Linked DNA regions of Homo sapiens: regions 2, 3, 4, 5 and 6 are each linked to region 1. Evidence: fine-mapped expression QTL. A gene starts in region 1. Each other region holds a variant in brackets. All regions are shown on one strand. Distances are between the middles of the regions.

What was found. PIP is the estimated chance that this variant, and not a neighbour inherited with it, causes the effect.
Region 2: its variant is the best candidate, but not a certain one, in a credible set for the expression of DDX60L in whole blood (INTERVAL, PIP 0.59).
Region 3: its variant is fine-mapped to the expression of DDX60L in whole blood (INTERVAL, PIP 0.92). The same link has a PIP of 0.9 or more in monocytes after interferon gamma.
Region 4: its variant is the best candidate, but not a certain one, in a credible set for the expression of DDX60L in monocytes after Pam3CSK4 (Quach 2016, PIP 0.87).
Region 5: its variant is the best candidate, but not a certain one, in a credible set for the expression of DDX60L in whole blood (TOPMed, PIP 0.68).
Region 6: its variant is the best candidate, but not a certain one, in a credible set for the expression of DDX60L in whole blood (INTERVAL, PIP 0.74).

The regions. Positions count from the first base shown.
Region 1 is chr4:168,478,057-168,483,588 of GRCh38, forward strand. It overlaps DDX60L (DExD/H-box 60 like), which reads right to left and starts at 2,436. Exons shown (of 38, transcript NM_001012967.3): 1 at 2,321-2,436. RefSeq lists an enhancer at 2,455-2,694.
Region 2 is chr4:168,329,611-168,335,142 of GRCh38, forward strand. No RefSeq gene overlaps it. Among named protein-coding and RNA genes, the nearest start is that of DDX60, 14 kb to the left of the region's middle. The variant CTTT/C (reference allele first, on the strand shown) is at 2,636.
Region 3 is chr4:168,506,662-168,512,193 of GRCh38, forward strand. It overlaps PALLD (palladin, cytoskeletal associated protein), which reads left to right. Exons shown (of 22, transcript NM_001166108.2): 2 at 4,762-5,532. The coding sequence starts at 4,844. The region is part of intron 1 of LOC107986198 (a long non-coding RNA gene); the gene reads right to left. Among named protein-coding and RNA genes, the nearest start is that of PALLD, 12 kb to the left of the region's middle. The variant T/C (reference allele first, on the strand shown) is at 2,381.
Region 4 is chr4:168,428,081-168,433,612 of GRCh38, forward strand. It overlaps DDX60L (DExD/H-box 60 like), which reads right to left. Exons shown (of 38, transcript NM_001012967.3): 11 at 4,930-5,035; 12 at 4,375-4,490; 13 at 2,398-2,558. Among named protein-coding and RNA genes, the nearest start is that of DDX60L, 50 kb to the right of the region's middle. The variant T/C (reference allele first, on the strand shown) is at 3,038.
Region 5 is chr4:168,374,432-168,379,963 of GRCh38, forward strand. It overlaps DDX60L (DExD/H-box 60 like), which reads right to left. Exons shown (of 38, transcript NM_001012967.3): 31 at 5,295-5,399; 32 at 4,932-5,073; 33 at 3,923-4,044; 34 at 946-1,093. Among named protein-coding and RNA genes, the nearest start is that of DDX60, 58 kb to the left of the region's middle. RefSeq lists enhancers at 2,151-2,320, 4,784-4,953. The variant T/C (reference allele first, on the strand shown) is at 2,418.
Region 6 is chr4:168,453,723-168,459,254 of GRCh38, forward strand. It overlaps DDX60L (DExD/H-box 60 like), which reads right to left. Exons shown (of 38, transcript NM_001012967.3): 6 at 4,170-4,286; 7 at 2,317-2,430. Among named protein-coding and RNA genes, the nearest start is that of DDX60L, 24 kb to the right of the region's middle. The variant T/G (reference allele first, on the strand shown) is at 2,647.

The DNA.
Region 1 (5,532 bases):
ATCCCTATTTTAAAAAGGAAGGGAAGCGAAGGGGAGGGGAGGGGAGGGGAAAAGAGGAGAAGAAGGAAGGGAGCCAAGAAATTTGGGTCGCACAGGTGACAGCTTCTGTACTGCAAATAAAAAGTGATAGGACAAAAAAAAAAGAAAAAAAACACCTTGCTCAACAAAGACTCATAAAGAATTCTCAGTTAAACAGAAGGACTTAGCCTTGCTGCAAGTATTAGGTGGAGGTGTTACCCTCCCAGGCCAGACTATCATTTCAAATGAACTTAAGACAGATTATGCTAATTTGAGAGGGAATTAGGATGAAAATAGAAACTCTCTGGGTGTAATTAACGGCATAGGGAACTAACTAGAGCATAAGAAGCTGGATACATTTCTTAGAGAATTGTATTTCCAAATAAACTATGAGCTGCCTTAAAAATGGTTACATCAGTAAAACAAGCAGCAGGTTATAAAAAAGGGTGATATCAGTAAATCAACCAGCAGGTCTCCATACTTACAAAGCAGAAAATGAGCCTGCAGCAGGGAAAACCACAGAGATTTCCACCCACATCAACATAGCCGTGGATGATAATTAACATGGGTATTTTATTAAAAGCCATAAAGCTAATCCTGAGAAGAATTTTTAAAAATATATAATTCATATTAGAAGTATTTCTTTCACAGGGAGTCGTCGGAGTCTGTCTAAAGTAGATAAAACAAAAGACTGATTTGTAAGCATATAATTTATAAGCAACCAAGAAAGAAATGTATATCTTTGGAGTGGTAACGCCTCAGGAGAACTAAAACTGTGAGACTAAGTATGAAGGGGAAAGTAGTAGAGAAGGGCATTTAATTTTTGTTTTATGTCTTTCTCTTCTGCTTCAAATAAAACTGATCAATTATGACCCAGCATACCATGGGGTATCATACAGCAATTACTAAGTAAGACTGACAGGTACCAATAAATCATGAACCAAGAAAAGCATACCAGTATGACAGCCAAAATATCTTTTAAAGTGTATGGATCTAGAGATAGACAGATGATGGATCGATGGATGGACGGATGGTTGGATGGCTGGATGATGGATGGATGGATGGATGGATGGATGGATGGATGGATGGATAGAGAGATAGGAGCTATAGACAAAAACTTGTCTCTTTGTAGAGTATCAGGAAGGATTCACACTAAACTATCCCCAATATCTTTGGGATAGAAGGCGAAGAGCCTTGGAAGCATAACTCACCCTCATTTATTTTAGTACCCTCAACTCTCAGCACCTGAGTTCCACCAAACTTCAAACTGCAAATCTTAGATTGAATGGTATGTTACTGTTTTCAGGAGAACACTCGAAATCATGAAGGTCTGTATGTCGTTGATGTTATGGTTTGGACTTCTTATTGTGTCTTTAAAGGACTTGCTTCTGTTTGGTTCTGACCGCTTTTTCTAGCAGTCATTAGGAGCTTTCATAATCCTTAAGGCCCCATCACGGATGATGTCAGCTTCTTTGATTATGGAAAACCTTGAGAAGTTTATTATAAATTTATCAATGTAACTTTGTAAACAAAAGAGAAGCGGGAAAAAAGAACAAAGTACCTTTCCAGAGAAATAGTAAAACCTTATTTCCGCTATTAAGAGCTTAAATCCGGCCGGGCGCGGTGGCTCACGCCTGTAATCCCAGCACTTTGGGCGGCCTAGGCGGGCGGGTCACGAGGTCAGGAGATCGAGACCATCCTGGCCTAACATGGTGAAACCCCGTCTCTACTAAAAATAAAAAATAAAAAATAAAAAAAAATTAGCCGGGCGTGGTGGCGGGTGCCTGTAGTCCCAGCTACTCGGGAGGTTGAGGCAGGAGAATAGCGTGAACCCGGAAGGTGGAGGTTGCAGTGAGCAGAGATAACGCCACTGCACTCCAGCCTGGGCGACAGAGCGAGACTGACTCAAAAAAAAAAAAAAAAAAAAAGCTTAAATACAAGACGGAAAAAAGGGAAGCGGCTTGCTGCCTGTCAATGTCCAGGTTCGAATGGCTGTGCTCAGATGTGGTGACCCTTACTTTCTCCTCAGCACCCCAGATCCCCAGGCCCCCTCGGGTGCAGAGGACCCGTTAAATGCCTGAGCACTCTCCTCTCTCACGGTGGTTGTCCCTCTTCCCTACCTCTCCGCGAAGCTGCCGCCCGAGCCCAGTGGGCGCCCCAGCTTCCCTCGCCCGGCGCGCACGAAGCCACCAGGCCACCTCCCCGCCCGGTCCATCTGGATGTTGAAGGAATCCTAGAACCCCCGCGGGACAGCTCCGCTCCAGGGTCCCTAGCGACACCCGACGTCACCCGCAATCCTCACCCCGGCCGCCGAACCTGCTAGGTCCAAAGAGCTTCGGAGCTGCACGCCCCGCGGGGAGGAGGTGGAGCAGAGGAGACCGAGCGCAGAGCCTGGCGTCGGACTGGGCGCTCTGAGCCACACAGCAGCCAGCGCCTGAGTTTTTATCTAGGGAGTTAGTTTCGGTTTCTTTTCTCCACCGCGAGGCCTTTTCGATTTCCGCAGTTTTCTGGAGGTAGAATATAGGTCTGCATTGGTTTACTCTGAGAATCTTAGGGAAGTAATAGTAGAAGCGATGATATGCTATCTGGGACATGCATGTAATTGTAAAGGGAAAGAAAGCAGAGAAATCTGGGACTCTAAACAAGGAATTGAGGCTGAGAGTAAATGCAGCACGCTAAGCACTATGAAAGTCTGCGGTGAGGTGTGGCGTTTTTCTTTTCTGGCAAGGTACTGGACAGGCAAAAATGGAGTAAAAAAGGATTAGGGGCTTTGAGTTTCTGTCCTAAGAAGTTCATTTTATGAAAAATTTCCAATAGTATAACTGTCCAGTGTGAACATTTGAAAGACCAATCATCTATCACAGAGAATTTAAATTGAGAAGAAGAATGCTCTTTAGTTTTGTCATCAAGCTCATTAATGTTTGAAATTCGAGTTTCAACCCCAGCCCATCATGGTCTTTAGTGCTCCAGACGCTTAATTCCATGACGTTATGCATGTGCAGAATATATTGAGATTCAAGGTGGTGGTGAGGGTGCCCCAGTAACGGCATGGGGTAATAAATGGAGAGAAATCGAAACCGGAAGTTCTGTCTTCAAGAAAAGGAAAGGGTGGAAGTGACTTGTTCACAATAGAAAGAGCCCAGAAGAACAAAGTTTTTTCTCAGACTCTGGAATATAAAGTGGCTTCGAAAAGGAGGTGAAAACATTGCTCACTTCTGTCAGGATTTTTCTTTAATTTTATGTTTGGTTGAAAATAGTTATGATTCTCTTTCTCAATGAGGATGACATTGAGAAAGAACCTGAAATGACTCATGATTAAGTCATGAGTTCATCTCAGATGAATTCCTCTCTAGCATCTGATACTGGACCTTTGTATCATAAGAATGCATTTGCTAGCAGCAGAAAATTGGGCTTTGCTGTAAAAGCATTCATTGAGCTTTTTATGTGCCAGGCAATAGGCTAAGCCCTTAACATGTATTATCACATTAAATCTCACAGAAATCCCATGAGCAACTTTACTGTTGCTATTTTATGGATGAGGTAAATAAGGCTTAGAGAATTCAATTACTTGTCGATGACCCTACAGGTAGTTAATGGTAGCCAAGACTTCAAAATTTAATTCCAAAGATAATATCTACAATATTCTCTGTATATATTATCTCATTCCAGTTCTTTTAAATACTACAGTGTCATTATTCCTCCCCCAAAGCACATACAATTTAATGGGGATTTCCTCTTTTGGTTGTAGAAGTGGGCCCTACATGTTCTTAATATAATTGACTGTCTGCTGTTGTTTTTCTCTCTTAAAGATATAGATGTATCAGGTGGGGATTCCCTAGATGTTAACTCCACACATCCCACTTCCCACCGCAAAGTATATGTACAATGCACATAAGCAGACTCTACTCCAAATCAATATCCAGTTCTCTTCCACTTTAATAATATGTTACCATAACTCCAGCCTGGACATTATCCAGAAACTTGAAAATCATAAACTCCATTTCCACTTTTTAGAGACTTCCCCCTTGCCTCAATCTCTCAGTCTCCTTAGGAGCCCCACTCTTTCACCTCCCCAGGATCAACTCTGTGAACAGGCACTGAACCTTCCTCTCACTAACATTCTCAACTGCTTCATCCACTCTCTTTCCTCTGCACCTTCACTGCAACTTGATCACCTCAATCTAGTAAACCATTTTTTGCCCTTACCAGGACATTGAAGGAAATTGTCTAATATTTTTCACCTCAGATTTACTGTTTATGACTATAGGTTCCTGATCTTTTTTACAGTGGCCCTTAAAACCCTACAGCATCTTGCTGTTCTCTTCAAGTCCACTAAGAATATATCTGTTTTAAAGAGACTCCTTTTAACTGTCTGACACCTCCATCTAGTCCAAGAAGCCCATGACATGCTCCACATACAATATAACCACTCCCTTTTGAGTTGGTTACCTCCAGCTTCCTCAGGAATCTCACTCCATTCCTATATTGTTAACCTCTCTCTATTTACAGCTGTGGTAGACTGAATAATGGTCTCCCAAAGACATCTATGTCCTAATCCTTGTACCTATAAATATGTCATCTTCTGTTGCAAAAAGAACTTTGCAGATATTCCTAAGAATCTTGAGATGGGGAAATTACCCTGGATTATCTGGGGACCTGATATAATCAGAAGGGTCCTTATAAGAGGGAAGGACTATTATCAAAAAGGAACCAGGACAAGGATAATGTGGGAAATTATCAGGATTTCAAGACTGCAAAGGATGGTAAAAGTAAGAGACTCACTGCTGGGAAAACGTACTCTGGAGAAAAAGTCATGAGTACAGCTGGACAACCTTTTGCTAGTGCTTCAAAAAGATCTCTGTGACATACACAGGAAATCCAAAAGATTTCTGAGAATATCAGCAGAAACACTGCCAGCTTGAACTGAAAGGTACAGAGAGAGAATAAAATGAAAGACGGTTATAGGACTCCCAAAATTCCATAAGCAATAAACAGTCTGATAAAACTATTCAGCCCCAAACTTGTGCTATCTTTCATGAAGGATGACTCTGAGGGCAGAGCCTAGAGACACAAATGGTTATTCACAGGCCTTAAAACCTATGGAGTTAGCCTTGCAGATTTTTGAAATTTCTTGGCTTTTTCTCCTTCCATTTTCTCCCTTTGTGAACAGGAATATCTGTAACTGGTACCCTATTCCTGTTCCACCATTGTATTTTTGGAGCAAATAACTTGTTTTCTAGTCTTAAAGCTTCACATATGGAGAGAAATTTTGCCTCAGGATGGTTCATACCCAAAGTCTCAACTATACCTGATTTAATCATTTAGGTCTTTTCAGCAGATGAGATTTAGATGGGATTTTTGGACTTAAGTTGATACTACAATAGATTAGGACTTTGGGGGGACCTTGGAATGGCTCATTTTGCATATGGAATTGATGAGAATGTTTGGGGCAGAGAGTGCAATGACAAATAAATGGCTCCCAAAGCTGTGCATGCCCTAATCCCCAGAATGTGT
Region 2 (5,532 bases), 150 kb before region 1:
ATTACTTTGGGCAGTATGGCCATGTTCATGACACTGATTCTTCCTATCCATGATCATAGAATTTTTTTCCATTTGTTTGTGTCCTCTCTTATTTCCTTGAGCAGTGGTTTGTAGTTCTCCTTGAAGAGGTCCTTCACATCCCTTGTAAGTTGGATTCCTAGGTATTTTATTCTCTTTGTAGCAATTGTGAATGGAAGTTTACTCATGATTTGGCTCTCTGCTTGTCTATTGTTGGTGTATAGGAATACTTGTGATTTTTGCACATTGATTTTGTATCCTGAGACTCTGCTGAATTTGCTTATCAGCTTAAGGAGTTTTGGGGCTGAGATGATGGGGTTTTTTAAATATACAATCATGTCATCTGCAAACAGAGACAATTTGACTTCTCTCTTCTTATGTGAAAACCCTTTATTTCTTTCTCTTGCCGGATTACGCTGGCCAGAACTTCCAATACTATGTTAAATAGGAGTGATGAGAGAGGGCATTCTTGGGATTACGTTTATTGATTTGCATGTGTTGAACCAGCCTTGCATCCCAGGGGATGAAGCTGACTTTGTAATTGTGTATGTTTCATGAAGTTCTTGTGCTGTGTTTTTCAGCTCCATCAGGTCATTTATGTTCCTCTCTAAACTGCTTATTCTAGTTAGCAGTTTCTGTAACCTTTTATCAAGGTTCTTAGCTTTCTTGTCTTGGGTTAGAATATGCTCCTTTAGTTCAGAGGAGTTTGTTACTACCCACCTTTTGAAGCCTACTTCTATCAATTCTTCAGTCTCACTGTCTGTCATTTTTTGCTCTTGTTGGAGAGGAATTGTGATCATTTGGACGAGAAGAGGCATTCTGGTTTTTGGAATTTTCAGCATTTTTGCTCTGGTTTTTCCTCATCTCTGTGGATTTGTCTACCTTTGATCTTTGAGGGTGATGATATTTGGATGGGGTTTTTGTTTAGGGGTTCTTTATATTGATGTTGATGTTGTTGCTGTTTGTTAGTTTTTCTTCTAACAGTCAGGCCCCTCTTCTGCAGATCTGCTGCAGTTTGCTGGATGTCCACTCCAGATCCTGTTTGCCCGGGTATCACCAGTGGAGGCTGCAGAACACCAAAGATTGCTGCCTACTCCTTCCTCTGGAAGCTTCATCTCAGAGGGGCACTGGCCTGATGCCAGCAAAAGCTCTCCTGTTTGAGGTGTCTGTCAACCCCTGTCGGGGGATTTCTCCCAGTCAGGAGGCATGGGGGTCAGGGACCCACTTGAGGATGCAGTCTGTCACTTAGCAGAGCTGGTGAACTGTACTGGGAGAATCCCTCTTGTCAGAATCAGCTGCTCTCTTCAGAGCCAGCAGGCAGGAAAGATTAAATCCGCTGAAGCTGTGCCCACAGCCACCCCTTCCCCCAAGTGCTCTGTCCCAGGGAGATGAGGGTTTTGTCTGTAAGCCCCTGACTGGGGCTGTTACCTTTCCTTCAGAGATGCCCTGCCTAGTAAGAAGGAATCTACACAAGCAATCTGGCCACAATCTCTTTGCCATGCCCAGCCCAGACCTCCCAGCCTCCTTAGCACTGCCAGGGGGAAACTGCACACTCAAGCCACAGTAACGGCAAATGCCCTTCCCCCTAATAGGCTCGAGCGTCCCAGGTCGACTTCAGACTGCTGTGCTGGCAGCGAGAATTTCAAGCCAGTGGATTTTAGCTTGCTGGCCTCCGTGGAGATGGGATCCACTGAGTGAGACCACTTGACTCCCTGGCCTCAGCCCCCTTTCCAGGGGAGTGAACAGTTCTGTCTTGCTGGGGTTCCAGGTGCCACTGGGGTATGAAATAAAACTCCTGCAGCTAGCTCGGTGTCTGCCCAAACAGCCACCCCATTTTGTGCTTGAAACCCAGGGCCCTGGTGGTATAGGCACCCGAGGGAATCTCCTGGTCTGCAGACTGCAAAAACCATGGGGAAAGTGTAGTAACCGGGTAGGGTAGCACAGTCCCTCATGGCTTCCCTTGGCTGGGGGAGGGAGGTCTCCCAGCTTCTTGCACTTCCGGGATGAAGCGATGCCCCACCCTGCTTCTGCTCGCCTTCTGTGGGTTGGATCCGCTGCCTAACCAGTCCCATTGAGATGAACTGGGTACCTCAGTTGGAAATGCAGAAGTCATCCTCCTTCTGCATTGTCCTCGCTGGAAGCCGCCGACCAAAGCTGTTCCTATTTGGCCATCTTGGCCGCTCCTCAAGACAACATTTTTAAAAAATGGCTTTCAGATGGGGGTCTCACTGTGTTGCCCAGGCTGTACCGAAACTCCTGCACTCAAAGGATCCTCCCACCTCAGCCTCCCAAGGAGCTGGGTCTATGGGCGCACACCACCAGCCTAACCTGACAGCATCTAAAAAAACTAATTTGTAACACTGTATTACTTTCCAGGCACTAACCTCATCCTCAATGAATCAGTCTAACTTTGTTATAATAACTTAAGAGTCTTAGTCTGGTGTAAATTTTCTAAGGAAGAGAAGTTCTGTATTTCATATTCCTGTATTGCAATATTTTTTAACAGGTATTTTCTTCTCCACTCTGTACAGAATGAAAGAAATGTCATGTTGCATTATGTTTTTTGATGAAATCATATCCAGTTTTCAGACCTTTCAGGAGAATAAGCTTTTTTTTC[CTTT/C]TTTTTTTTTTTTTGTTCTTATGAATTTCTTCCTTCACTGGCCTTATACCCGGATTTACGGGCCAGGGAACCCAGGCAAATTTCAGGGAGGCCTCCTCTGGTCGGTAGTCCACTGCGGTTCACCATGAGACTCATTGTTCTAATCCCCATGGTCCATTACAAAGAAGAGGCACCCACTACTTTCACTGCAGCTTCCAAGGCCATGATGCTTAATGCTGAGTGCTCAGGAGTCTATGTCCAGGCCTGCTATGCCTTGACACTGTTCTGTCCTGCATGAGTGTCCTGGCCAATCACAGAACCCACCACCCACCTGCTTTTCCAGGCTCTGAGAACTCAACTCCTTCTCAGGCTAAGACCAGCATCTTCCTCTAGAAGCACAAGCCCCATCTGATGCTTCTAGAATTATTTCCATCATACGTATAAAACTGTATCATTTTGAGGGTTTTTACACCTATACTTGCAATTTTTTTATTCTTATAATTCAGAAATACAAAGTGAATTTCTCTCTGAGATAGAGGAAGTCTACTTATAATAAGACTTAGCTAGACTTCCTGAGAGGTAGAAGGGAAAACTTGTATTTTTTTAACACACCTTAAGAGGAAGGGAAACATTTTTTATTCATTTTAAAATGTCGGCCAGGCACAGTGGCTCATGCCTGTAATCCCAGCACTTTGGGAGGCCGAGGGAGGTGGATCACCTGAGATCGGGAGTTTGAGACCAGCCTGACCAACATGGAGAAACCCCATCTCTACTAAAAATACAAAATAAGCCAGGCGTAGTGGCGCATGCCTGTAATCCCAGCTACTTGGGAGGCTAAGGCAGGAGAATCGCTTGAACCCGGGAGGCAGAGGTTGCGGTGAGCGGAGATTGCACCATTGCACTCTAGCCTGGGCAACAAGAGCGAAAACTCCGTCTCAAAAAAAAAAAAAAAAAAAAAAAAAGAGTCAACAACAGCAAAAAGAAATGAGTAAGGTTTTATTAAAGGAAATATTAAATAGTGAGCATTTCTTCAGCACTGCATTGAGATGGGGTTGTAAAGTTTACCTAAGATTTATCAAAGTTACTGCCTGGGTGCAGTTCACTCTGGAGAAAAAAAAACCTGGTGAGACTCTGAGATCTGTACTATTCATTCAATAATAAAACATCGGAGGGAGGTGGGGAGGGTTAATGGGTACAAAAAAATTAGAAAGAATGAATAAGACCTAGTATTTGCTAGCACAACAGGGTGACTATAGTCAATAATAATTTAATTGTACATTTTAAAATAACTAAAAGAGTATAATTGGATTGTCTGTAAGACAAAAGATAAATGCTTGAGGGGGTGATATCCAATTTTCTGTGATGTGATTATTACATATTGCATGCCTGTACCAAACTATCTCATGTAGCCCATAAGTATATACCTACTATGTACCCACAAAAATTAAAAATAAATTTTTAAAATTAAATAAAACATTTGAAAACATTAACTTGATGGTAGATTTATATAATTTAATTGTTAAGAGAAAAAGCATCTATTTTATTTAAAAATTAATAATATATTGTATATATGATATTATTCACCATTTATCTAATTAATCCTGTTATTCCACTCCCTAATGCTCACACCACCACCAAGATTTTTCCAATGTTAATATTTTTACATATTGTACCATATCTTGTGTGAAGAAATAAAATTACAAGCACAGTTGAAGCTCTTATTTTCCCTTCCTCAATCCAATTCCCCAGACCTCTTCCAGTGATTCATCTGCTGTCTTCTAGGATGTGCGTTCTTAGGTCTGAAGGCTTCCGGATTAGTTTTTCTGGAGAAAAGTGGGGATGGGAAAGTAGGGTCTAACTGCACCTTAGGGATTCTTTCATCCTGGTTTGAAGCCCCTAACTCACTACATATATCCATAGTTTGCCAATTAACAGTATTTGTAAGGAAGTGACTGGTGCCTCCAATTCCTGAGCCTCCCTGGGCTCTAAGACAAATCGTTTGCATGTCATCAGCATCTCTTTCTGAAGGGGTTTCAGTTTTGATTTGCTCTGCTCTTCAATTTAGTTACATCACTACTTCATCTGTTTACCATTTCCAACAACCTTGTTGATTTCCAGCATATTTTACTATCTCTTACTCCAATCTTTGTCCTGTTAGGTTTGTATTATGATATTTGTGATGTTTTCAAAAGAAAAATCATATGTTAAATCAGCCAAGCTCACTTAGAAACTTGTTTAAATAAGAAGCTGGATCAAGTGTGATGATAAAGTATCATATAAATAAAAGACTCAGTACTTCAATTCCAAGTTAACATAACAAAGAATTTTTCATTATAGTTTCACCCTTTAGATATGGTTCTGCTACCAGACACTGGGACAGCCATGATTTTTGTTCTATTTACCTATATTTGCTATTTGGAGGATTAAAACATTAGACTACATTAAACACAGACTCTACAGAATAGGTAATATGGGTCTTGTGGGGTCATTTTGACAACTAAAGAAAAGACTTATCCTTGTTATGAACAAGTGTCCTACCCTACAGGCTATATTTAATTCTAGCATCTTCTGCTGTTGTATGATCTAGTACCCATTAACAATATGAAGAAATCTTTGACATTAGTCTTATATTTATATTATTTATAAGTATTCACAATCTCATTTATAATGTTGTTAATAGATGAAAAAATGGAACGTTGAGTCATTATCAACTGAATTAAATCAATATGTAGAGATAATTGCTTGGGCTTTTCATTTTAAGCCTAGATACAATCTTAGATTGCCCCAAATTAAAGGTATACAGTATAAAAATATGTAAGTTAGGTTCGTCCATTCATCCATTTAGTTATTCTTCCAACAAACATTTCTTGGACGCTTGATGTATTAGGAACTGATCTGAGAAATCAATGTATGAC
Region 3 (5,532 bases), 29 kb after region 1:
GAGTCTATACTTTTGTTCAACTACTACCTTCTGTCTCTCCTTCTTTCTATGATCTTTTCAAAACAAACCACCACACCTGTAATATTTTCTTTCTTTCCTTCTTTCCTTTCCTTCCATGTAGCAATCTGGCTTATATTTCTGTTGCATACACCGAAAGTGCTGTTGCAATGGTGCTAAATATTCCCAAGTTGCTAAAATCAAAAATCAAAAGGACATGTACTGCTTCCTGAGATATTTTCTTTCCCAGCTTCCACGATATCTAGCTTTTCTTGCTTCCCTGTGATTATTCGAAGGATTCTATCTTCTCCTTCTTTTTTCCTCGATGACCTTATGCATTCCCATGTCTTAAAGTGCCACCCATAGGCTAATAATCCCCAATCCAGCTCTGTTCTCCCTTCTCCTGGGCTCTAGATCAGCATCTCAAATCTCCTAGACATCAACACCAGAGTTACCAAAGGTCCCTCAACTGCAAAAGGCTCAAATCAAAATCAAGCTTAAAAAATAAAATAAAATAAAATAAAAAAACTTGTTCCTCCACTTGTAGCATGTAAGTTAATGGTACCAGTCATCTGGTTGTTGAGGTGAGAAACCTGTAACCCTGCCTCTGCATCACCTCTGCCTTTAATCAATTACCAAGTTCTTTCCTTTCTATCATCTATCTTATGGACCCTGGACCCACTGCTTCCCTGAATCACCAGCTCTCACTTCAGAGTCCAAGAAGGACACATCTAATCGCTGTCTAGGCCAAGTGCCAAGACTTGTGCCCAGTCTCCAAGCGGCTGGGAAAGAAAATACTTGGAGATTTCACATCCCATTACAAGTGAGTTCAGTTTCTCACTGAGCCTCAGAATATGAGGAATTCTCCAAAATGAAGACGTCCAGATGACAGCAACACCAAACGTGAAACCATGATAAATGTGTGCACCCCCTGGATTACTGCACAAGCCTTCTCACGGACCGCCCTACTGTCAGTCTTGTCTTCCTCTTTCCCTACCTCTGTCCCGGATCCAGACTGCAATCAGTTATCTCTCAAAAATGTAAGTCTGGTGATGTTTCTCAAGGACTTAACACTCTTCCTTGCCTACTGACTACCCATAACATAAAATGCAAGTTCTCTGCATGGCTCCAGGCCCTCTCTGACCTAACTCCTGCTTTCTAGCCTTATCTCTGGTTATTTTCCCATCTCCAGATAGATTTCTGTTTAGCTGAAATGCTTAGTAGAATTACCTGAGTCTGCCATGTGCTCTCTGGGATCCAAGTCTTAAAATACATATTTGCCAGTATCCTCTTCACCTCCCCGCTCTTCCTCATCCCTCACACATCATTCTTTCAGCTTTCTCTCTTTCACAAAGGTTTCCTGATCCTGACCTTGCTGTTGCTTCTAGGTGCTATCACAGCACTTTGTTTTTCTATACCACTGCAGGATGACTATAGCTAACAATAACATACTCTATAGTTTCAAATGGCTAGAAGGAAGATGTTGAATGTTCCCAACACAAAGAAATCATAAATGTTAGAGATGAATATGCTAGTTGCCCTGATCTGATCACTATAAATTGTACGTATTGAAACATCACTAGGTACCCCATAATTATGTATAATTATTATTTGTCAATTTAAAAAATAAAATACAATTTAAAAAAAGACATACTCAATTATATAAGCTTATTATTTAGTTGTAATTTGTATTAAGTTCCATGAGGGCAAAAACCTTCTCTTTTTCAAGGTCATATCCCCGTCCCTAGCGCACTACCAGGCATGTGGTAGATAGTCCATAAATACACTTCGAGTGGGTAATTCTGGTCCATGTAGTACATCTATCCCAGCTTAGGCTTCACAATTTCGTCATGTCAAGAATCAAAGGTTTTGTTGCAATTATTTCCTTGGATTTTCAGCTTAATCTACCACAGGTTTGGTTGACACAAAATGTTTTTCAATCTCCTTTAGCACTGATTTCAACACAAAAACTGAATTTCTTTCAGGCCATAATAAATAAATAAATAACAAATAAAAAACACAGTAGCTTTCTTTCAAAGAAAAATAAATTTTACAAGAAATGCAATAAATGAAAATATAGTCTGTTGTGCCTTTGGTACACAAACCTACTTTCAGCCCCCGAGTCTCCCCCTCTCCACCTTCATGTCTCTTCTGGATCCATGTTACCTAATGGCTCATCTCCCCACACCTTGTAAGAGTTGATCCTGATCCTGGCTTCCCCTAAAGTTATCTACCATGTGTGCTGACTGAGGGGCCAATTGTACTTCAGAGCTCATTACTGAGAGAAACCAGGCTGCCTTGGTAGGACAAACTATAAAACGTTTTGCAATATACAAAATGGTACTGGGTGTCCTTGCAATAGACACCCAGTACCATTGCTGGA[T/C]TGGCTCTGGTGGACGTTCCAGGGTCATCTAATTCCACAGGGGTCTATGCCTTTTATTGTCTTTACAATTTTACAACTCTGTAAGTTGGAAAAATCTAAAAACAATGCAAATTATACTGGTGCATAGATATACAAATGATTTTTTTTCTAGTAGAAATGCTATAGTTTTCCACTCTTATGATTCCAAACATTGTATTTTATTGCTCTATAGATATTAACCAGTTTCAAATCTATTACCAACTTCATATCAGCATGCCTGATTGCCTACATGTGTCTCATCTTCAGCGTCTCCTTTGAAATAATTGTAATATATTACTGATTTTTTCAATTGTTAAATAAAAGCTCAAATACATGTTATTTGATTTTTATATATTACTATACCTTTGCCTTTTCAAAATCATACTTTAACTGCCTGTTTCTCATGAAGAAAATACATTCAAGTATTAAAAATACACTGAATATAATTGTTCCTCATATACGAGCCATATCTGAATAACTGGAGACCAGTCAGGATGTTTCTATCCTGCAGCACAGACTGGACAAAGGAATTAGAGTGATATTTGGGTTAGTAAAGTCAGGGAGAATGATGACACCCTCTGAAGGATTAAGGATTTACTTGAAGAAGAGTGCGAAATATGGTTCAGTAGATAGAGTAGGGCTAGCATGTGGTGAATCTAATAATTCAGGCACAAAAAAAGTAACTATCTTTCTAAGAAGACATGTAAGACAAAAGTACAGTATTCCACTTAAGAAGATGGGGTATGTTAACATTGAGTTTCAGGATCTCTGATTAACTACCCTCTGTTAAACAGCAGGTCTATGACTCACTGCATCCAGTGAAGCAGTAGGCTCTTGAGCTGGATTTCTACAACCCCCTCGACTCTTGCATAATGTATTTTGAAATTAGAGATTTTCTTAGATGGGAAGATACTTCTACGCAAGCAACTCAATTCAGTCCTCTGAAGACACACCATTTCTGGGGAATGTCCCACCAAGTTTACTCCTGACTGACACAAGGTAGAAAGTTGAGGTTCACCACATCCAGGAAGCTTCCATTATTCACTCCTAGACTCAGTCTTGTGGCAGACATCACCGCTGATGTTTTCTAGATCGTCCCTCTCAGTACTCTATGAACAATATATAGCAAAAGAATGGCACACTTAGAGTAACAAGGAGTCATTGCTTCACAATATAAAGTTCAAAATGTCAGTGGAATTTAAAGCTGTAATAGCTTACAGATAATGAAATACCTTTTATTTAATTCTGCTGATATTCCCATGTAAGTGTTCTATGCCAGGCCTCTAGTTATCTCATGCCCTTTAAGATTAGATTAGACTCTCATAGCCCCCAGGTTTTTCTCACTTTCCTTAAAAGCCTTATCAAAATTTTATATTATTAACATATTATTTGTTTAATATCTTCTCTATCTCCTCCACTTTACTACCTCCCATGACTTTTAACTCCTTGAACATGATAACTGTGCTGTAAGTCTGGATGAAGGGTCAGCAAATTTCAGCCCCTGAGCCAAATCCATCCCAACCCTTTTTGTATGCCCTGCAAACTAAGAATGTTTTTCTCATTTTAAAACTATTGTTTAAAAATTAAATATCAAAATAATAATAGTTTTAACACATTAAAATGATATAAAATTCAAATATGAGTGTCCATAAAGTTTTATTGGCACACAGTCATGCTCATTCATTTCCATCATCTTTGGCTGGTTTCATGCTCATGCAGAGTTGAGTAATTATAATAGAGGCTGAACAGCTCACAAAGTCAAGAGTATCTACCATCTGGCCCTTTCCAGAAAAGTTTGCCCATCCCTGGCATACAGCACAGCTGTACTTCCAGCACCTGAAATTTAATAAGTGATTATTACCATCTGTTGGACTGTTGAGTGAATGAATATGAATGCACATAACTGGAGACAATAAAGTTTCAAAGATTTCACTGAAAACTATAAATAAATGAAAATTGGAATCCTTAAAATGCATTTTGTGGTTTAGGGTTGGATAATCAGAGTCAGATTTACTAAAAATATCAATATTCTATTGATCTCATTACATTAATCAATTAGAGTTTGAGTAAGGTGGGCGGGGGGCTGACTGTGAGCCCTATCCTACTAATAGTGCCTACTGCACACATCATCTTTTTGAATGATTTAATACTGCCTAGTGAGATATTTGATAGCACTCACAGGGCATGTATTAAAATCATAAAATGATCAACACAAGTATACTTGATATTTCTTCCAACTTGTAAAATAAAGAAAACTTATATTCATTCACTTTAATGTTTCTCCCAATTTGTGACTTACAAGTTTTATGATTAAAATGGGGAAAAAATCATTGCTACTAATGACATTCTATGCTGTCTTTCAGAACACAGTTTCAGAAAACAGTTTCCAGTGCCTCTGGCCTTCCTACTGAAAGCAGACACAGAGTGCATGAAGACCGTTCAAATATGTCAGGGACCTCCTCCCATGAGTCCTTCTATGACTCCCTCTCAGACATGCAGGAAGAAAGCAAGAATACTGACTTCTTCCCGGGCCTTTCTGCTTTCCTCAGCCAGGAAGAGATAAACAAGAGTCTTGACCTGGCCCGGAGAGCCATAGCCGACTCCGAAACAGAAGATTTTGACTCGGAAAAGGAGATCTCGCAGATTTTCAGTACTTCTCCTGCAAGCCTCTGTGAACATCCTTCCCATAAGGAGACCAAATTGGGTGAACACGCCTCGAGGAGACCTCAGGATAACAGGTCAACACCTGTCCAGCCTCTGGCAGAGAAACAAACTAAGAGTATCTCTTCACCTGTTTCAAAGAGGAAACCTGCCATGTCACCCCTGCTCACCAGGCCCAGCTACATCCGGAGCCTCCGAAAGGCTGAAAAGCGTGGTGCAAAAACTCCCAGCACAAACGTAAAGCCCAAAACGCCACATCAAAGAAAGGGTGGCCCCCAGAGCCAGCTGTGTGACAAGGCAGCTAATTTAATTGAGGAGCTAACATCCATATTTAAAGCCGCAAAGCCAAGAAACAGAAGCCCAAATGGGGAGTCCTCGTCACCAGACAGTGGGTACCTGTCTCCTAAAAATCAGCCGTCAGCCCTGCTGAGTGCCTCAGCCAGCCAGAGCCCTATGGAAGACCAAGGGGAGAT
Region 4 (5,532 bases), 50 kb before region 1:
CTTGCACAAAGGCTGCAGAAGATGGTTGCTTCAGGATGCTGTATTCACTTTGATCCTTATGCTTGAAGCCAAGCCTGGACCTTTGCCTGAGCCAGCCCCACCTGGCCACCCTCAGCCCAGAGGAGGTTAGGTCTGTGGGCTGAGGTGGAGCCTCTGCAGTTGAAAGCATGTGTTGTGTGGCTGGATGGACCCTTAAATAGCTCTAGGAGAGAGACCCAACAGCAGTGCTAAGAAACCTACAGTGTAATCAGTGATAACTATTATCTAGAATGGCTTTGAGGAGATATCCTGTCACTGATTGTAGCCTTTGCAACTTCAGCCTGGTTAATGAATTGACGGTCTGGCAAGGAAAAGGAAGACTCTAGATCTCTGATTAACAATTTTCTGAAATTAGTGGGAAAGAGAAATGTTTTCATTTTTTGGATCTTTTCCTTGTGGGGCTTTTATGTTTCATTCTCCAAAAATATTCCCTTTCCTACTCCAGTTAGGGTAAGGCAGCCATGATAAGTGCCATTGGTCATCAATAGTTTGGTTTGTGCTCTTTCACGTATTTAGCATGGTTGACCTCAGGAAGGGGATTTACCAAAGCAAATAAATGTCTTTCCTTAATTCCCAACCATGAGGCTAAGAGAGAAGTACTGAAGCCTAATGAAATCCCCTCTGATGAAGAATGATCGCAAAGTAGTACCTTCCCAAGCAGAACCATAAAATCTACCGTTTGTTCAGTTATAAACACTATCATTTGTGTTACCTGATACTTTTCCACATTATCTTTTTAAATTTTTTTTGAATTACAGGGATTCTAAGTTTGTAAACAAGCATGGTCTAGTGTAAAGGCAGGAAGAGAAAGAAAATAGGTATGGAAGATTCCTACCCTTTCAAGAAGACCTGGTCTTACCTTTAATATAAACAAAAGTCCAGGACAGATTAATGGCATAAATGACTTAAAAACATGGACAGTTTTCCAAATTCAGGCAAAATAATGAAGCTGATGGAAATGTTAGGCCTATTTTTACCACCTCTATGTAAAAAGATTTTCACTGTAACAAACTAATATACAAAAATTCCTTTTCTTTTTTTTTTAGACAGAGTCTTGCTCTATCACCAAGGCTGGAGTGCAGTGACACGATCTTGGCTCACTGCAACCTCCACCTGCTGGGTTCAAGCAATTGTCCTACCTCAGCCTCCTGAGTAGCTGGGATTACAGGCACCCGCCACCATTCCTAGCTATTTTTTTATATTTTTAGAGGCGATAGGGTTTCACCACGTTGGCCAGCCAGGCTGGTGTCGAACTCCTGACCTCAGGTGATCCGCCCACCTTGGCCTCCCAAAGTGCTGGGATTACAGGTGTGAGCCACTGCACCCAGCCCACAAACATTTCTTTTAACTTAAATTTGACTTTTCTAAATCCAAGCTTGTAATTCTTTGATGCATTAAGCTTGTTATCAGATAAATCTATCTTTTCTTATTCTAAAAAAGATAGAATACTAGATTTTATGTAATCTTCTTAGGATTTCTAATGGCAAGCAAGTAAAATAACTCATTTGTAAGTGATATGATTTGGGTCTGTGGCCCCACCAAATCTTATGTCGAATTGTAATCTCCAGCATTGGAAGCTGGGCCTGATGGGAGGTGACTGCATCATGGGGAGGGGGTTTCCGATAAATGGTTAACACCATCCCACTTGGTGCTGTTCTCATGATAGTGAATGAGTGACTTGTGCAAGATCTGGTTGTTTAAAAGTATGTAGCACCTCCCCAACACTTCCTCCTACTCCAGTCATGTGAAGTGCCATCTCCCCCTTTGTCTTCTATCATGATTATAAGTTCCCTGAAGGCTGGGTGTGGTGGCTCACACCTGTAATCCCAGCACTTTGGGAGGCCAAGGTGGGTGGATCACCTGAGGTCGGGAGTTCGAGACCAGCCTGGCCAACAGGAAGAAACCCTGTGTCTACTAAAAATACCAAGAATTAGCCGGGCCTGGTGGTGGGTGCTTGTAATCCCAGCTACTTGGGAGGCTGAGGAAGAAGAATTGCTTCAACCCGGGAGGCGGAGGTTGCAGTGAGCCAAGATCGTGTCACTGCACTTCAGCCTGGGCAACAAGAGCGAAACTCCATCTCAGAAAAGAAAAAGAAAAAGAAAAAGAAGTTCCCTGAGGCCCAGAAGCTGATGCCACCACAGTTTCTGTACAGCCTGCAGAACTGTGAGCCAATTAAACCTTTTTTCTTTATAAATTACCCAATCGCAGGTATATCTTTCTAGCAATGTGAGAATGGACTAAGACAGTTAGCAAACATGAGAAAGAAGAGAATGGAAGACACCTCCAGAGACAAATATGAGCCTAAAGAAAACAAAACAACATCAAAGAAAAAAATTAGGTAAAATCTTTGCGATCTACCTGTAATATTTCACCACTGGCACCACTGGAATCCTCCTTTGGCCGAGTAGTTTGAGTCACAATGACTTTCGTAGAGATTGATTCTAACGATTTCCCATAAAATTGCTGATAATCCTGAATCTTTTTCAGGAAATCAAGAACATGAGGATCTCTAGATTGTTCTGAAATAGAAAGACTTAAAATGTAAACATGTATTTTAAAATATTGCTATATATGTGTGCTACCCACACATTATTTTTTTAACTCCAGAATAATAATTCAGTATTTGCCAATGAGGTCAGATTACCATACGCTAACAAAATAATTCCCTATATTATTTGAAGAAGAGAGAGGACGAAGCTCTGCTAATGTCCGGGTCTAAGTACCTGGACATTGCCCCTGTCATTTGGCAGGAGAAGAGGAGAAGAGGAAGGTTGGGGGCAGTCTAATAGCACATTCACCTGCAACAGGGGTCTACAAACTAGGTCCACATGATCAAATCTGATGAGTACATTTTTTAAAATTGGTTACACTCTAAATGATTATATGAGTACCTACATCATGCTGTCAATTTTGGTCTCTTGGTTTGCAAAGCCTAAAATATTTATTACTTAGACCTTTCAGAAAAAGTTTGTTGACTCCGGACCTAAAACATTCTGTT[T/C]GCACTCCTAAAAAGGAAAACCTCTACTTCTGGTCCCAGTCAAATATTTAGGAGCTTACAGCTGACAGATGCTGATACCAATTACCTTACACCATGCAAAAATTCAAATGACACAGAAAATTCCCAGGAAGCAAGGCTAGATTCACTTGAGACCTAGGAACACTCTTTACAAACATAAAAGATATAAATAAGCTAGTGTTTTGTTGTTTTGGATGTTGTTGCTTTTTCCGTGTCTGTGTATGTGATCACAAATCAAACCACTCTGGAAACACACCATGCAGAATCTTCGTAGACACTTACATAAATAGCTTATTCCTATATGCAATTGGCATACTTACTTGACTTATTTCTAGATCCTTCTGAAAAGTTTTACCAGTTCTGCAATGAGAACACATGGACACAGGAAGGGGAACATCACACTCTGGGGACTGTTGTGCGGTGGGGGGTGGGGGGAGGGATAGCATTAAGAGATATACCTAATGCTAAATGACGAGTTAATGGGTGCAGCACACCAGCATGGCACATGTATACATATGTAACTAACCTGCACATTGTGCACATGTACCCTAAAACTTAAAGTATAATAATAATAAAATAAAATAAAAAGAAAAGTTTTACTAGTTCTGAAAAGGGTGGAAATAAACATCGGATTGGAGAAAGACACTAAAAGAATGAACCAGGAAAAAAAGATCTATGAATTCCTTTCCTTAGGACCCATTTTTAATTGTTTCATGGGCTTTACTTTTTGTAGATTCAACTCCTCCTCATTACTGAGTTTTCATGGGCACAATTATGCTGGTACTTGGCAGCATGCAATCAACTAGACAATAGTTTAGCAGGAAAAGAGCTAAAATGTTAGGAAGACTATGGCTGTATCAGCATATTTACTTCAAGGTATAGACAGATTCCTAAAACCATCAAGTATCTTTCCCACTTAAACAGCATCTGATATTTTCATGACAATACCATGCATATGTACATCCTTAAAAGATTAATAAATCTCTATTTGAATTAACAGATACATCTGCATGCATACGTACATATGCACACCAGATAATATAATGGGATTTTTTTCAGACAGCATGCTTCCTACTGTGCCTCTTCAATTAATATATATATATATATTGTGTGTGTGTGTGTATATATATATACACACATATATGTATAGTATATATTGTATATAGAGATCTCATTCAAAATATATATTATATATAATATATAGATAGATCTCATTCAAAATAGAACGTGTTTACAATGTAATATCTTTTCACTGTTAATAAAAAGAGCAGCAAAGGCAATTCATATAAGCTCTATTTTATCGTGGTTACAGAGCTCACCATCAACATGACATTTGATCCTGTCATAGTCGTCACTAAGGAGTCTTTGAGCATGCCAGTGCAAAAGTTCATCAGATGTCTTTTGTTTAAACAGTGAAGGAACAACCGGATCATCACTGTAAAAATAAATACATAATTTTTTTAAATTTTAAGCTTTTCAAATTTTAGCACAAACTTCAGGCTGTGATAACAGAAATTGTACAACCTCTTTTTCTATTTGTGTGATATAATGTGGGTCATAAAACCTCAGAGACATAAAAACCCTGAATTTCTGCCATTCCTGTAACAGTCACATCCACATCAACAACAATGTAGTAAACTTTATAGCTGGAGTAATTTTATTATACGTTCAAAATAATATAGATTTTTATATAGTAATGTTCAAATAATATTGACATACTAGATGTTACAATCACTTAAATGTATTATAGTCACATTATATAGAATTTACCATATCCTGATATGATATATTACATAGACATTTTGATGAGTCATTCACTTCACTAGTATTTTCAAGTTGATGGCACTAAATCAGGTACTTCATTAACTCTGTACCTCTTTAGAATAGGCAAATCCTTCATCATATCTCCAACAAACTCATCAATTACAGCAGATGTCATTGGAATAAAGCCCACACTAGGCATCTTTTCCAAGGAGATTTCTGAAAACAAATATAAATTTAAGATGAGAGGAAAGGTGTAACTATCCTATATGAATTTTGAACATTATTTTTAAAATTTCAAATGCATAATATTTTACATAAATTTTACTAATGTTTACCAAGTTAGAGCTTCCAAATGAGATATTCCTCAAAGCAAACATGTTGTAGCAAGCCAGTATATTAAAAATTAGTATATAACCATTTACATATGTATGTAGATGGTAGCAGATCACTAGATAGACAAACATGTAGATTTTCCATTTCCAAGTACTTATTCTTTTTTATTATGTCACAGTATGAATAATGTGTCACAGTATAGTAATAACAGCACTTGAAAAAAGAAGCACCACTCAGAGTTCACCTACATAAAAGCCTCCATGAAAATTAAATCACAAAAATAGGAAAAAATTAATAATAAAAGTATTTTATTTATCACCAAATACTCTTTGGAGCCTTCTTTAATTTCTATTTTCACAGTTCCTATGTATGGTTTACAT
Region 5 (5,532 bases), 100 kb before region 1:
TCTTTCCATTTATTCTCCCCTAAAAGTTTCCCGCTATAAAATTGAAATTTGGAAGCTTAGTTACTTTGCAATACCAGTTACTCCTCAATCAAGAACAAATAATTGAAGCAAAGAATGATATTTGCAACGTCTGCTAGAACTTTCCGTAATGATGGAAATATTCTACCTCTACTGTGTCCAAAGTAGAAGCCACTAGCACTGGAAAGTTAACGTGACTAAAGCTAAAGTGACTAAAGAATTAACTTTTCAATTGTTTTATTTTTAATCAACTTAATTTAAATAGTGACACGTAGCTAGCTGGTGGCTACCATGTTGGGTAGAATAGACTTACGCGATGTTGACTATGTGCTATGCACTGTTTTAAGAAACTTATAAACATTAATATACCTAATCCTCTAAAATTCTGTAAGCTAGGTAATATTTTTAGTCATTTCATTTTACAGATTAAAAAAATGAGACACAGAAAGATTAAGTAACTGGCATGAGACCTCATGGTTAATAAGTAGCAGAGCCAGGATTTAGACCTTGGCATTCTGCTGCCAGTGTTCACATTTGTAACCACTATGCAACTGCCCCTCAGGGGAAAAAAATGCCAGAAATTATGCCGTTTTCTTTTTCATCTGTCACTTTTTCTGATCCAGTTTTCCAACCTGAACAGATAGGCAACTTTCCATCAAAATGGTTCATGAATGACTTTTATTTTTTTTCCTCCATTGCCCAATTAATATTTGGTAATTATAAAGTTTTTTTTTAATTGGAAAACAGAGCCATTATCACACCCTACAATGGGCTAAATTGTTTTCTGGGGATAAAACACTTGGGTTAGTACAGCTGCCCTGTAATAAGCTCCTTTACCAGCTTTGAAGCATCCAATATCCAGAGGCTTTCTTAACCAAGATTGTTTACTCTTTAAATTGTTCCGGAATGGAACTAAAATCTGCTTACTGATTCTTGACAAAGGGAGTTGATGCTCTTTTTTCATGTTCACCGACTTGGAAGCAATCAGCAGGAAGGAGGCAAAATCCTTCATTACTGCCAGGTTATACTCATATAAAGCAGCTTTAAAATCCTCCGGGAGTTCGGCAAGGATCACCTATGGGCGAAATACATTTCAGAAAGATCTCTTTACTTTTATTTAAAAAATTAAACTGCTTGGTGATAAGATTGCAGCATAGTTCTGTAGATTGATGCTCATTCATCAAAACCCTTGATTACTTTACTCACCTGTGAGATTAAGGTAAAATTTCCTTTTGATTTCAACCAACATTTATAAATGTAAGTATCTTTCCTTAAAAAAGTTATTTTGACTCCACTTAGCCAAAACCACCAATTTAATAGAAACATGTCCTACACTGATCTTAAACTTAGGTATATTTCAGAGACTTGAGGGACATATTTAGAGAGCAAGTAACAAGTTAGTGTAGCAGTAGTAGCGTCAATGCTTTATTGAGTTCAGATTATGTGCCAACACTGTGCTTTGCTGCCCCAAGCACTTGTTATATGTTAGCTCAGTTAATCCTGAGAACAACCCTATGCAGTAAACATTTTCATCTACATTTTGTACATGAGGGAGCTAACCCTCACAGAGGTAAACTTGTTCCAAACCTGACAGGTAGTAGATAGAGAAGTAGCTGGTATTGCAAGCTAACTCAGCTTCCAAATTTCATGTTTAAAAACAAATTCTTTCAGAATTAGGACTAGAAGTTTCTTTAGTGTGAGTTAGAAATAGCTATGACATTAGAAATGTTCTTGGTTTTCTTCTGTTACAATTATGGGTTTTATTATTTATTTGATATTTTCCTTAATTTATTCATAACCTGTACTTTTCCAATAATTGAGGTATTTTATAAGGGTAAAGATAATACAATATGATCATATAAATCAAAATTTGGTAAAAAGGAAAGAAAAACAAGAAAGAGACTAAAATGGGGCACAAATTATATTCCAAGATTCCTAGGAGCAAGTGTGAATGACACATTTCAGAATGTCTATGAGATAAACAGCTATTTATTCTCAGCACTAATATCAGGTAAGAATTTTCCAGGGGGATTCTTACAAAAGGCAACCGTGTGGACATAATAAAGAATGCCCCTACCAACTCCTTACAGTGGATAGTATGACAATTTCCACAAGCCTACTTCGGACTCAGCTCCATCTGTGGATGGACCAAGACAAAAGAATAAATTGACAGGTGCAGCTCTACACTCTGGTCAAAGTGATATGGTCTCTTTACTGCTATGCCTTCCATGTCCTGCCATTGTGCCACTGCTGGACACCGTTCTAGGGCAGCACGTGCTGCTTACCATGTACACCTTGTGTTGTTTGCCACCTTCTCGAATGTGTATGCTATACAGCCCCATCAGGAGAGCAAGCTCTTGGAAGGTAGCAACTATGTTTCCCAATCATGATTTTTGCTA[T/C]AGTTTACACATATTTATTGCTCAATAAATCTTTGCTAATTGACTAATATAGAGCAGTTATCCCAAATTATGGTACATAATATAAGAGGTACATGAGATGATTTAGTGTGACACACAGAACATTGAGTAATTATACATCAGTTTTAAAAAATAAAAAGTGGGCTGGGCATGGTGGCTCATGCCTGTAATCCCACCACTTTGGGAAGCCAAGGCGGGCGCATCACTTGAGGTCAGGAGTTTAAAACCAACCTGGCCAACCTGATGAAACCTCAACTGTACTAAAAATACAAAAAAATTAGCCAAGCGTGGTGGCGAAGCCTGTAATCCCAGCTACTTGGGAGGCTGAGGCAGGAGAATGGCTTGAACCTGGGAGGTGGAAGTTGCAGTGAGCTGAGATTGCGCCACTGCACTCTAGCCTGGGTGAGTGAGCAAGACTCTGTCTCAAATAAATAAATAAATAAATAAATAAATAAATAAATAAATAAATAAATAAAAATATCTTCTTTCCAGTCCTCTTCTATTCTTTCTGATAACCCTAGAAAGTCCAGAGGCAATAGACCACCATTGTTTCTCTAAAAGTTTATAATCTCTTTTTGTAGCAAAGAGAGAGAAGCTTCAGCTGAGAACCATGTTAACTGCATCTATTTTTATGGCTTCCTTAGTTTTGAAATCAAAGATCCTGGCTTTCTATTTACAGTAGTAGTAAATATGAAGTTTCCTTTTTAAATACTTTAAAATGTGTATGCATTTAAGAAAATGATTAACAGTTCCAGTGGTTTGCAATGTGGATATATGTCAGTAACTAAAATTGGGTGCTCAGGTCTGGAGGTATATCCAGAGGCATTGTGAGGTCAGAAAGCCTAGATTAATGCTAATTACCTTTTTGTTCTCTATTCACTAGGGTTACTGGATAGAAACAAGCTTCTTCTACATTCCCAGGTTCTAATGCACATTTTCTTGGGTTCTGTTTGCTTGTTATTATTTTGTTGTTGTGTCTTTAAAAAAATAAGAAATTGGAAACAAACAGTGTTACAAAAAAACTTAGAAAATAATTTTTCTTTCAGTCTCTCAACCCTTAAGTTAGGGGATTCTTTCTTAGGTGACCACCTCAATATTGTCTGAAGAGGACATTAGAGGTCATAATGTAATTCCTTCCCTGCACTCCCATCCCTAGCTGTAAACAATCCCAATGGAACTATAGGTTCAGCAGTAGGGCTGTCATTCTATTTAAATGACTATTTGTGTATGTAATCTCTGTTGCTACTGAATTACATAATTTGCTCCAATAAAGTGAAAAAACTTTAGGGATAAGAATTGTTTGTTAGATTAGCAGGGGAAGATGTTTGAACTAAAAATTAAATAGAACTCTAATTATGAAAAGACAACACTATTAAAACAAATGGAGTAGCTTATATTAATTTAACCCTATAGGTACTGAATGCTTTCCAGTAGCATACATTTAATAACTATCATTATTATATCATTGTAAGTATAACAAACTTTACCTTTGACTGAGAAAAACTTAAATTAGCATTTTGGAATTTTGCTGGAATATATTTTCTTCCAAACAAATTTGCCAATACTAACACGAGCTTTTCCATCACATCTTGGGAAAATTGTTGTGAGCCTATTGAAATAAAGAGCATTATTATAAATAAGAATAATGTTGATTCCATTTATTTTCTGCCTAAATTTGTTTTTATAGTACATTTCCTTTTGTTGAAGGCAAAATTTTCTAGCAAATATATACCTCAGAAATTGACCATATTTGCAATACTATGTGCACATTTATTTTTTTGGGTAAGACAGGAGATTTTATATTCTGTGCCTTGTTTTTCCATCCTTGCTATACCCGCCCTAGTTCCCACCCCAGAATGTTTACTAACTGGTTTCCTGACTTGCACTCTCCTTTCTTCAGGCCATCTTGAGAGTGATCAGCCTTTCCAAAGCATGAATATAAACATATCCCTCCTTTACTCAAAAACCTTTGAGGGTATCTCAACGGCTAATTGAAAAATCCAGGTTCCTTGGCCTGCTCTTTAGGGTGTTTCAAATCCTGTCAAAACAAAGCTTCCAAACTTACCTACCAACACTTCTAAACACTAGCTCTAGGTTCTGGTCATCTTGACCTACTCTCCACTCCCCATAACGCATGAGCACCATACTGTGGGCATTAAAAGGTGGCTAGGTTTAATTAACTGGGCTCTGAAGCATACTAAAATCATATGACCATCAGAAACTTATTGTCTTTCTATGCTTCTCCGTTTTCTCTTCTGCAAATATTCTTTATCAGTTAAGTAATATATAAGTAGCCCTCAAATACTCTTTATTAGAATAAATATCAGTTGACTTTTAGTGTCTAATTTTTTGGCATCTGTAAATCTGAACATATACTTAGTATTTATTTGCTTTAATAAATGAGAAGGAGGAAGAAGAGAAAAACATATCTGCGGTTTTGGCTATTCAATAAATATGTTGCCATTTTTCGACTACAGGTATAAAACCCAAGCTTACCTTTCCAGGCTGGCTTACAGAGATTATGGAAAAGGCCTCTCTTGAGAAAATTTACAAAAACAAGATTTGAAGGTTCATGACCATGCAAATATGATGCAAGTCCTGCAAATTTCTTTGGATTACCCTTTTTATTTAAATAGTCCTAAAAATGAGAAACAAAAAGTTGATTTAACTTGTCATGTACTCAAATACCATAAAATACCAGTGTGAGTGACTGACAAATATTACCTGACTTCATTTATTAATAAATGATAAGTAACATTATCATTGAATGCAGATTATAGAAATTTCAGTTGGTTTAGCATAGAAAGAAGTTTACACGGTACTAGTTACAGAGAACAAAAAGCCAAAGCACGATGATACCTCTTTGATAAGGAGCTGCAAGGAAAACAAAAAGTAAAGTTTCAAAGTCTCCATGGCTCTTCGTCTCTTAAAAGACAGCAATGAATGCTTTAGCACTGACAACACCTATAAAAGAAGAGTACTTTAATTTATCTAGTTTTAAACAGTATTTGTAAATACTGATATGTAATAAATAGTACACATACATACTATATAGATAAGGTTACCAGATCTTACGTGAAAGTAAATTTCATTTGAT
Region 6 (5,532 bases), 24 kb before region 1:
CCTGTGGCAGAGACTTCAGAACTATTTTCGAATATATAAAAGGTTGTCATATGGAAGGTTAAAAAAACCTTAATCTGGGTATCTTCATAGAGCAAAATTAGGGATAACTGAAATTACAAGGAGATTGATTTGGGTTCAATATGTTCATTTTTTTAAATTAGAACCACCAAAAACATCGTGCATGGTCATTTGAAAATATTTTTCCAAAAACAATTAGGCAAATAGAGTAAAGGAGATTCAAATGAGACAGTGATCCCTAGCCATCTCTAAATCATGTGAGAAAGAAGCAAATTAAATTAATCAATATGAACTTTTGTGAGAAATCAGCTTTTATACCCAGAACCCTATGATGGGTGCTATTCACACTCCCACCCACGGCACATCTTCAGCATAACATAAAAGTGAATATATTAAGGTAATTATCATTTTTAAGCATGCTCTTAAAATTCTGACAATCATGCTGAAATAAAGTTTCTAAGTTCTTCATTTTTTACTGTTTATCTTCAAAATTTAAGTATTCAAATTCACAATTTTAGAGAAATCTACATAGCTAAGATCTACTGTACTACATACTAAATTAAAATATTGGAGTGCTCTGTCTCCTACATTAAAAAGACTATTGCACAGTAATTCAGGATCTGGGCTCTGAAAACCGTCTAACTCCAGTCAAGACACTGTATGAGTCAGTTCTCCTATATGTATAAAATTGGGATAGTAACAGTACACTTTCTCATAGGGTTTCTGGAAAAACGTGAAATATCTAGAATATCACCAATACACAGTAAGCCCTAAATGTTACCTATTATTAGCTAGTCTTCATAACATCCCAGCTCTGTAGGTTGAAAGCAGCTATTAGCACACATTAGACAATCAATATCCTTAGCTAAGGGAATTAATAAATGTGTTATCAGTCAAGAGAAAGTCAAAGATGGGAAATTCAAACTAAGGAAAGAATCAAGAAGGAAGAAGCATAAAATGCTCACTGCTCTCTCCATTCTCCATTCTCCATGGTGCTCCCGAAGAGTAAACAGCTTCCTTTTTTTTTTTTTTTTTTTTTAGCAGCTAGAAGAATGTTGTTGTCATTTGTTGGGATGGAGAAGAGTGAGGCAGAAGCAGGTTTGGGGAGTTTGGTTCCAGAAATCCTAAATTTGAGATGTCTATTACAAATCCAAGTGAAAATGTTGAGTTGGTGGTTCAGACTAGAGGTCTGAAATTCCTCTAGTTATTTCAAAGGGACATTAAAATTGCCTTCCAAGATATGTATGATCAGTGGGGGTAGATATCATGTCTATTTCTTCTCTCTCTCCAAATATATTTATTTTTGGCATATATATTACCATGCACAAAGTAAATATTTTATGAAAACATGCTGATAGATTTAAGAAATGGACAATTTTCTCCTATAGAATACTAACTTCTTGAGCCCTGTACAGTCACATTATTTCTTTCTTTTTCTTTTTCTTTTTTTTTCTATTTCTTTTATTGCTGTTTGTTTTAAGAACAGAGTTTTCAGCCTGAAACACACCAATATCTAGACTGCATACAAACTTTGTGTGTGTGTGTGTGTGTGTGTGTGTGTACTTATGCAAGCAGGGATGCATATAGTAGAGCGGAAAATCCATGTTCCTCAAAAGATTCCTAAAGGGCCCTATAAGCTGAAAACAATTATAAAAATTCAGGATCTCTATAGTCTCAGTGACACTAATAAACAATAACAGAACTGTTCTTTTAAATACACAACTTAACAGAGCAGAATCATTACAAGCTGTGGAGCCAACCATCCTAGTCAAAATCCAGGCTGCCTTTTACCATGTGATTTTAGGTAGGTTAGGGAAGTCTTGGTCTCAAAGTCTTGAATCGACAGGAGAGAGTGATAATTGCTATACTGAAAAGTTGTAAGATTACATGGTGTCAGGTAACACAAAGACCCTGAAACACAGCGTATAGTGGGGCCCCTCCTCCAATTTGTTTCTTTTCCTCTTCCTCCTCACTTTCTCTGTTTTTTAGAAGAACTGGGCCAAATAACTACTAAGTGAAACACCAGATAAAACTTGCTGTACATTGTATTTTAAGAAAAACACTAAATTACGTAACATAATATTTTCTTATGTATACAGATTCTAATTTTTCTCCCCTTTTTGGTATTTAATACACATAAATTGGTGGGGGAAGGGGCTAAATTCCTAATGAAGAAAATGGCGGTCAGAAACCAAGAGTATGTCCACAGTGGAGAACCTGATGCCACCAGTGAAGTTATACCAGTTACACCTGATGAATGACAGCTTTCTGCCTGGCGGCTGTGTTCTTTTTACTTACTAAGACACGATGGTACATTCTCAAGGATAGTGAACATGAAGTGACACAGAGAACACGCTGGATGTCCGATCCTTCTGACCATAGGTGCTGAAGCAGAAATAGAGTCTGATACGCCTATCAAAAAAGAAATTTCTTCAAATGTCAAATTATTTAGAAATATTCTTTTACTCAGAAGTGCTCTTACTTGTAAGAAACATAAAGAAAACGATTGTATAGATTTGACTAAACGGAACTTCAAATGTTTAGTTTAAAAATGTATGATCATTTTAATGATAGAAAATTGAAAAATAATTACAACCAATATGCCAGAGAAATATGAAAACCTAAATA[T/G]GTAAAGAAATTAAATAATAAGAAATTAAGATTTAGTAAAACATGAACTGATTCACAAAGAAGGAAATAGATTATTAATAAAAATAAAATCATCCCATTTTACTAAAAATCAGAGAAGTATATGTTAAAACAAAAATTAGCTTGTTATAAATATCAATAATATCAAAAATTTTAAAATAATATCACACAACATTGAAAATTGTGTGGTGAGTCACCTCTCTTACAGATTAAAGATAAAAGTACAGGTAGGTATAGAATTTCTGCAAAGCTCTTTGACAACGTCCATCAGGATCATTAAATATGTTGATGCCTTATGATCCAGTTTTGAATTTCTGGGAATTTAGCACAGAGGAATAATAACCCAATATGTATACAAAAAACATATACATCAAAATGTTCATTATAACATTATTTATATGAGCCAAAATTTTGAAGTAATTTAAGTGTCTAGCATTAAGAAAATATAATGCACTCATTAGATACTACATTTATGAAAAATTCTTAATGACAAGAAAATATGCAATAATCTTAATGAAATGTACACTAAAAATATATATACAGTCTGGGCATGGTGGCTCACAGCTATAATCCCAAGACTTTGGGAGGCCAAGGTAGGAGGATCACTTGAGCCCAGGAGTTCAAGACCAGCCTGGGTAACAAAGTGAGACACCATCTCTATATAAAATAAAAATTAAAAATTAGGCAGGCATGGTGGCATATGCCTGTGGGTCCAGCTACTCAGGAGGCTGAGGTGGGAGGATCACCTGAGCCTGGGAGGTCAAGGCTGCAGTGATCCATGATTGTGTCACTGCACTCCAGAATGGGCAACAGAGTGAGGCCTTGTCTGAAAAAAAAACAAAACAAAACACCAAAAACATATATATAAACTACATACACACACACACACACACACACACACACACATACACACACACACACACACAATATGTCCTCAGCTACACAAAAATATATGTTAAAACGCTAATATCAAGAAGTGGAATTATGGATATTCTTACTACTTTTGTGTTTTTTTCCAAACTTTCTTATGCAACCACCTTTTACCGCTTGAGCATCAGAAAAAAAAAAAAAGAAAGAGGTGCTTAGTAATCCATCATGATAAATAGTAGTATAAAGCATAGCTTGAGAAGATAATCAGAAAATTAGACTTAAGGTATAATTAATTCCACATTTTGACTGTTTATATGGCAAATGATATCTTAGAGCCCTCCTCAATTTGAATACTGGAAAATAAACATTACTGTTGCATTAAGTACTACAATTTTCTAGTTTCCCAGAGTCTGTTTTAAAATATGGCTTCCGGAAATGAATATAAAATTACATATGCCATCCGATGAATTCAAGGTACTCTGAGAGCATGACATTCTAAGATTCAGATAGTATACATGTACTAAGGAGGTATATGGCACCCTTTAGTCTGGTCTAAGGACTGAACTAATCACAAGTTCATTCTCATTTACCAAATTCTATCAAACTTTTATTTAAAGAAATAAAAATTTTAATACCTCTTCCATCATATCATTCCATTTCAAATGTTCAAAATGAGTTGCTAATACTAAAACCCTTATTTCTTCCAAGTGTTGTATGAGGCTTTTATATGCACTCTGAATCACTGTTTCATTCTGTAAAAGGGAGAAAACCATATAAAATATCTTAAATAAAGTATTTCCCAGCTGTAAAATATGAGACACTTGAGGCAAATCAAAACCACAATGAGATATTATCTCATGCTGGTCAGAATGGCGATTACTAAAAAGTCAAGAAACAACATATGCTGGCGAGTTTGTAGAGAAATACGAATGCTTATACACTGTTGGTGGGGATGAAATTAGTTCAACCATTATGGAAGACAGTGTGGCAATTCCTCAAAGACTTAGAACCAGAAATACCATTTGACCCAGCAATCCTATTACTGGGTATATACCCAAAGGAATATAAATCATTCTATTATAAAGATACATGCATAAGTATGTTCACTGCAGCACTACTCACAATAGCAAAGACATGAAATCAACCCAAATGCCCATCAATCATAGATTGGATAAAGAAAATGTGGTACATATATTCCATGGAATACTATGCAGCTGTGAAAAGGAACAACATCATGTCCTTCACAGGGACATGGATGGAGCTCGAAGCCATTATCCTCAGCAAACTAACGCAGGACCAGACAACCAAACACCACATGTTCTCACTTATAAGTGGGAGCTGAACAATGAGAACACATGGACACAGGGAAAGGAACAACACACACTAGGGCCTGTTGGGGGAACGGGGGAGGGAGAGCATCAGGATAAATAACTAATGCGTGCAGGGTTTAATACCTAGGTGATGGGTTGATAGGTGCAGCAAACCACCATGGCACACATTTACCTATGTAACAAACCTGCATGTTCTGCGCATGTATCCCAGAATTTAAAATAAAGTTAAATTAATTTTTTTAGTGAGACATTTGAATTCTACATTTGTTATAAGGTATACTAAGTAAAATCACCCTCATATGTCTTTAGGACAATTTTTCTTAAGCTCTGATAAACATGCATATTTCCTCTTTGACAAATTAATTTTTATTTCAGAATATAATGAACTGTCTTGGTATTATGGAGCTTTCAAAAATATAGAAACTTAGAGAAGGTAGTATGGACCCCCAATCCTGAACAATTATCAACATATAATACATCTATAATATTTATTGAGACTAATTTAAACAGTCCAAAGGGGGTGAGAAAAATAACTTCTTTTAGGGAAATACTTATAGATAATGAATTAGAAAATAATTTTACAGAAAATAAAATCATCAATTTAAGAAGAAAAGAAGGCCAGGCATGATGGCTCATGCCTGTAATCTCAGCACTTTGGGAGGCTGAG